Regions from separate parts of the Homo sapiens genome. Here region 2 is reported to be linked to region 1. Evidence: microRNA targets listed by miRTarBase, many of them from high-throughput screens and not tested one by one. Region 1 holds a microRNA gene; the other region holds the end of a gene's coding sequence.

Evidence for each region. The annotated mature microRNA hsa-miR-3670 reads AGAGCUCACAGCUGUCCUUCUCUA and lies in region 1 at 1,141-1,164, shown strand. An mRNA with a match to its seed (bases 2 to 7 or 8) in the 3' UTR can be bound and repressed. Matches are read on the target gene's strand: a 7mer-m8 pairs with bases 2 to 8, a 7mer-A1 pairs with bases 2 to 7 and ends in A, and an 8mer does both.
Region 2: the mRNA of TXNIP is a reported target of hsa-miR-3670. Seed matches in the 3' UTR shown: 7mer-m8 at 1,662-1,668.

Annotation. Positions count from the first base shown.
Region 1 is chr16:16,305,269-16,308,672 of GRCh38, forward strand. MIR3670-2 (microRNA 3670-2) reads left to right here and starts at 1,102; the gene lies at 1,102-1,166. All of the region lies in intron 1 of LOC105371099 (a long non-coding RNA gene), which reads right to left.
Region 2 is chr1:145,990,961-145,994,364 of GRCh38, forward strand. It overlaps TXNIP (thioredoxin interacting protein), which reads right to left. Exons shown (of 8, transcript NM_006472.6): 6 at 3,321-3,404; 7 at 3,056-3,207; 8 at 1,475-2,926. The coding sequence ends at 2,891. Among named protein-coding and RNA genes, the nearest start is that of TXNIP, 3.9 kb to the right of the region's middle. RefSeq lists an enhancer at 1,748-1,827.

The DNA.
Region 1 (3,404 bases):
GTTTGTTTGTTTGTTTGTTTTTGAGACGGAGTTTCAGTCTTGTCGCCCAGGCTGGAGTGCAATGGCGTGATCTTGGCTCACTGCAACCTCCGCCTCCCAGGTTCAAGCGATTCTCCTGCCTCAACCTCCCGAGTAGCTAGGATTACAGGCGCCAGCCACCACATCCAGCAAATTTTTGTATTTTTAGTAGCGACGGGGTTTCACTATGTTGACCAGGCTGGTCTCGAACTCCTGACCGCAGGTGATCCACCTGCTTTGGCCTCCCAAAGCGCTGGGATTACAGGTGTGAGCCACCGTGCCTGGCCACAAGGTGGTCTTTTAACAACAGAGCACACAGCTGGACAAAGCCCAACGCTCTCTTCTTTGGGGCCGAGGTGGGTCATTAATATTGAACATTTACAATGTACTTGCTCCAGGTGATTCAGTTTAATTTCTGCCGTCTCTTGTAACAGGGCTCCCACGTGCACGGGTTGGGGCCGTGTGTCTGCCTCTGCTTTCTGAGGCCCCACAGCGTATTGATTCTGCGAAACGTACGTTTCTTTGAAAACAGCGTCTCTTGACATGACAGGAGATCACACATCGCTTGTTTTCTGTCCCTTTCATTGCCCTCTGAACATGATAAAATCATGACCTAGTGTCACCGAGGGACCTCAGCATCTCTTGGAAAGAAGGACTTGCCTTCTTTTTTATCTTTGTCAAGCCAGTGAGGCCAAGTAGAAAATTTTTAGCAGCTTTGGAGCCAGACAGATCGGAGTGCGAGTTCTGCCCGTTATTGACTGGACCGTGTGACCCTGGGAGAGCCGCCTAGTGTCTATGAGACGGAGGCTGTTGGGCAAGAAAATGGGGATGGTCCCAGCATTATGGGGCGGTTGTGAGAATTCAGTGCAATGATGCAGTGCTCCCAGAACAGCTGGTCTAGGGCTTGGCTCATGGGACTGTCCCTTCGCAGAGGCAGCGTGGACATTCCGCTGGTATCCACTGGTGTGGCTGTGCCTGTTTGGTCACCGTGTCTGTTCTGATTGGTCGGTGCTCCTGCATGTCAAGAGTTCAATGTTATGAAAATCATCCCTGCCTAGAGATGAATTCCCCCTTCCCCTGAGGTCTAGACTGGTATAGCTGCTTTTGGAGCCTCACCTGCTGAGAGCTCACAGCTGTCCTTCTCTAGAGAATCACCCTCAGATGGGAGCCACATTGCCTGGGATGGGATGCCATGCCCAGTAATGGCCCAGTGACTAACTGATACAGCAACGTGAATGGCTGGTCCCTGCCCCACGGTGGGGACGATCCTGTGGCGTGCTCTCTGCTGCTCGTGGGATAGGTCAAGGCGGGACTTTAAGGGACCACATTCTCACTCTGCTCTGTCCCCTTCTGCATCCTGTAGTCCTCACCTCCCTTCTCCTGAAAGCCCCTTTCAAAACAAAAACAAAAACCACATCCACCCAAGTCCCTGTCTCCAGCTCTGCCTCCAGGAAAGCCGGCGGAAGGCCGCCAGTCTCAGCTGTGACAGATACAGATATTTCTGCATTTCCAGGACTGAGGTCAATCCCTGGGGACCCAGTGAGGCGGTATCTGAAGGGCCATGGAGCTGGCTTGATGGGGTCTACAGGTAGGCAGGGACCTGGTGGGGATGTGACTCAAGGATTTTTATCAAATATCTTTATCCCCTGACAGATGCAAAAAAAAAAAAATGAGATCAGACTCCAGGGTTTCCTCCATGCCACACTGTGGCCCCATTGTTTGTTGTGCTATCAGCAGAAGTTGATTTTGCAAGGAATGTACACGTGTATGTGATGTTTGAATGCACCTATCTGTGTGTGCGTGCATTTGTGTGTGTGTGTGTGCATTCGCTTGTGTGTGTGTGTGTGTGTGTGTGTGTGTGTGTGTGTGTGTGTGTGTGCTGAGGATGTGAGCCCCACTTCCGGCCCAGTGCCCCTGCCCAGGCTGGCTCTGCCCTCCTGCTGCTCTGGGCCCCTCAGGCAGTGACTACCTGGTACATAGGGAAGGCATCAGCATCCCTTATTCATGGGGACTGTATACTGTCTCCACCATATTGGGCCTTTTGGCCTCTTGGACATGACTTGGCCTCTGCTGGCTTTAAGGGACTGCCAGAGATGCCATCTTCTCTGGGAAATGTTCTCAGCCTGGGCACAGCCCACTAACCACTGCCTGCTTGTCTGAGACTTCTCTGTCCAGGAAAACAGCCCAGCCTGACCAGAGATGGGCATAGAGCCATATTTTGGGAAAGACTGGTTGGGGGTCAACTTGGTTTCTGGAACCAGTTCTGATTTCAGTTGCAGGGGACAGTGAGCCAGTTACTGCCCACTGGCTGCATCCTAAGCCTTCCTAGAGGAGAGCTAGCCTCCTCCTAGGGTTGCCCAGGCTGGACCACTTCTGCCTGGGTGATGGGTTGGGAGAAAGACGTTAATATTTGGAGCAGTGTTATATTAGTCAGCCCTCCCATTTGCAAACATTAGAAAACCAGCTCAAATTAGTGATAAAAGAAAATCTCAGCTGAATTAAATTTAAAGTAGTTTAATTGAGCAATGAATGATTCGCGAATTGGGCAGACCCCAGAATCACAGCAGATTCATAGAGACTCCAGCGCAGCCACGTGGTGGAAGAAGATTTATGGACAAAAGAAGGGAAATGATGTACAGAAATCAGAAGTGAAGTACAGAATGGCTGGATTGTTACAAGTTGGCGTTTGCCTTATTTGAGTACAGTTTGAACACTCAGCAGCGTATGAGCGGTTGAACTACGGCCTCTGGGATTGGCCAAGACTCAGCTATTGTTACAGGCGCATACTCCTAAGTTAGGTTTTCAATCTTGTCTACCTATTAAGCTAGGTTGCAATTTGTCCACAAGGACTCAACTATAGAAGTACGAAGTCCCACTCAGGCCATATTTAGTTCACTTTAACACTAGCTTCGGCAACTGTCTCTCAGAGCCCAGGGCAGGGCAGGGATGCAACTGGGCTTCAGGAAACTTGAATTCATTGACTGTCTCTTCCCCATCTTAGATGCAGTGCTAAGGGCTTTTTAGTAATTTTCTCATTTGACTCTCAAAACAAACTGATGAGGAAACGGTCTGAGAGTAGTTAGGCAGCTTTTCAAGGTCACACAGATAGTAAATGTCATCACTGGGACTTGAACTCAGGTCTTTCTGACTCTCATGTCTGTGCAACATGTCATCTCAGCCACTGTTGACACTGTATATGTGGATTAGGGTTGGCTAAACTGCTGTAACAAATAGACCCAACTCGAATGGTGCATGTATGTACAATAGGGGTTTATTTCTTATGATATAGTTCACGGTGGTCCCAGGTGAATAAGGATGGGTAGGTCTGCATTTTTCATAATCATCTGGATTTCTGCTCAGGCTCCTAGAGTCTCTGCCACCTTCCC
Region 2 (3,404 bases), not on the chromosome of region 1:
CTAGAGCTACAACACCCCACACTGATTTCATGTAGAATTTCCAGGAGCCTGTTATTTGGAATTAGTTTGTGGAAGTCCTCAGAAAAATCAATTCCCAAATAAGGACCAGGACCAGATCTGTGCAAATATTTAAATTGGCCATCCCAGGGTTTCTCCACCTGTCGGTTCTTTAGGAATGAAAATCACTGCTGGGCGCCATGGCTCACACCTGTAATCCCAGCACTTTAGGAGGCTGAGGCGGGTGAATCACGGGAAGTCAGGAGTTCGAGACCAGCCTGGCCAACATGGTGAAACCCCGTCTCTACTAAAAATACAAAAATTAGCTGAGTGTGGTGGCTCATGCCTGTAATCCCAACTACTCAAGAGTCTGAGGTAGCAGAATCGCTTGAACCTGGGAGGCGGACATTGTATTAAGCCAAGATTGGGCCACTGCACTCTAGCCTGGGAGACAGAGCAAGACTCTATCTCAAAAAAAAGAAAGAAAGAAAGAAAGAAAGAAAATCACACCAATTAAACATGGGATTGTGGTATTACTCTACTACTATTACCCTACAAGGAATAGGAACCATCAAATCATCTAAGGGATGAGGGTGAAGTTGAATAGTTAGCAAACATTTACTGAGTTATGTGCTTGGTTAGGAACTGTGAAAATAAAAAATGGTTAGCTGCCTCCAAAGAATTTAATACTCATAACTCTATAACCTCTTAAGTCCTGAAGTTATCCTTGTTAGTATATAAATCAAGTTTACATTGGGAAGAAACCCTATGATAAAACCATATTGTAAAAAGGGGATCTTCAGCTGAGTGTGGTGTCTCACGCCTGTATTCCCAACTCTTTGGGAGGCCAGGGCCAGCAGATCACTTGAGCCCAGAAGTTTGAGGCCAACCTGGACAACATGGCAAAACCCGAACTCTACAAATAATCAAAAAATTAGCTGAGCGTAGAAAAAACAAACACATACACACACACACACGCACACACAATTAACTGAACGTAGTTGTGTATGCCTGTAGCCCAGCTATGTGGGAGGCGGAGATGGGAAGATCACTTGAGCCCAGGAAATCAAGGCTGCAGTGAGCTAAGATCATACTACACTCCAGCCTGGGTGAGTGAGACTGTCTCAAAAAAAGGAACCGCCACTCTTTTCTTTCAAATGCCCTCATAAACATCATCTCCCTGTATTTCAAGAACCCATGAACTCCAAAACTGAAGGAATTTAGTAATGATTACCTATGGATTTGGAAAACTAGTTTAGACAACCGGAAAATCCCAGTATAGTTGTTCAGTGAATCTGAAACATGCCTCAAACGGTTTCCCTCTTCACCTTCTAGCCCCCACTCTGCCGACATTCCTTAGGGTCCATAGGGAGTGTTTTCTCCACAAGGTTTTCATTAGTGTGGATTGTTAAGTAGAGGAAAACTCCTTTAGACACACCTTCTTTCCAAAAACTTTTCCAAAGCCATCTCACAGACATTTTTTTTTCCATTAAAAAAACTTTATTTTCATTTTTTACAAAGAATATCCCCATCTGGGGTAAAAATATATCTGGTTAAGTACAAAATATAGTCTTTACCATACAAAAAGATACATAATACAAAAACATGAAACCAACCATCTTCAGCCCACACTTTCTGGCTGTAATAACTCTCAGAAAAGGGTGGAGCTCAGTGCTCTGACACAGGACAGTGAACAAAGTGCTATGGCTGAGAGTGACTGACCAAGTGCTGGCAGCTGCAGTGAGGGGCCAATATCCCTATCTCCTAACACAGGGCAGGAAGGGGGTTCAAAGGGCTTTTATGAAGACCTGCCCTCTAGTTTCTCATGGCAGTATTTGGAGGTTCTGATCACAGGGTTGGGCATCTTGATCAAGAGTTCCTCCTTGGGTTTGAAGTCACAGTGGGCAAGGCTGACAGCAGCAACCCTTTCACATGATTTAAGCGTTAGAATTATATAATTCTGTACATTGGGGCAATCTCAAAAGTAGTAAAATTTTTTTTGTCTTTTGGCTTAACCCTAGAGACACAGTAGACCAGTTTCAGCTTACATTTAAGATGGCAGAAGGGGAGAACAAAAAATTTGACAGGAATTAAAGTGCTAAGAACATCACCTTAGAATCAATTCCAAGGACTTACATGAAGAGAAAACCATCCTCCCATATGAAAATATTTGCAGTAGGAGAACACAGTGCAATAGGCTCCAAAAATGGCTTTTAAGACCTTTGGTGGGGCAGTTACTACTGCTTTAAAAGCCAGGTTAAAGTATACTCTAAGCAAAGATGACCGTAGAGCAGCTAGCTTCCTTTTTTATAATCACAGGGAAAGCTCTCTCCATTGTCCATCAAATCAGCTCTAGAAGGTTTTTCTTTTTTTTCTACAAGTGCACAAAGGGGAAACACTGATTTTAAGAACCTCCTTTTCCCAAAGTTTTGGCCACAATTTCCCTTTTCATCTTCCTAGTTTGTTAAATTGGCTCTTCTCCACATGATACGTAAGTTCAAGGTCCAAAGTTCCTATCACAATTTACAAAAAGCCTCCAAAAAACCTTGAAAAGCTTACGCCAGGAGGCCATTTTTACCTGACCCGAAACTATCGAAAAGGCCTCAATTTTCAAGGAGATCTGAGAAAATGGATGGGCCTGAGTTTTTCTAGTTATTTTTAAACCCATCCAACAAACACCCCTGTATCACAACATGGGCGCTGGCTGAGGATGAGTCCGCATCCTTTAAGGCCCAGGAGATTGCCTGCTGACCACCTCCTACATTAGGAAGTCAGAGGCTAAGGTGGACCCACACTCCATTGCAGAGACTGTTGAGTCTCTGAAAAAGTGAGTGTCCAGGAAGAGAGACAAAAAGAAACAAGTAGGTAAAGCTGCTTCTTTTCTTCCACATGCTCACTGCACATTGTTGTTGAGGATGCAGGGATCCACCTAAAGAAAGAAACAGACTATTTCAGTTCAGGTAAGAACAAAAAGAACAAACCAGTTTAGCAATCCGTCTAAGTCAACTTCTTATAGAAAGCTTAGGACAAATTTAACAGTAAAGATGACAATCCTCACCTCAGTATAAGTCGGTGGTGGCATGAACTTGAACTCAGGGGCATACATAAAGATAGGGCTGTCTTGAGAGCCATCCATGTCATCTAGCAGAGGAGTGGTTGGGCTCTCCAATCGGTGATCTTCAGGAATGACATCCATATAGCAGGGAGGAGCTAGAAAAGAAAATATGGCCACATAAGAATCCTGCCCAAGAAATGCTGGACCATCACAATTTTACAAACCCAGGTAGACCAGAAACAAAGAAAAGACATTAGGTCTGGCTCACCTTCTGGGGTATCAGGGATGTTCAGATCTACCCAACTCATCTCAGAGCTGGTTCGGCTGGCCATGCTGGATGTTCTGCTGCTTA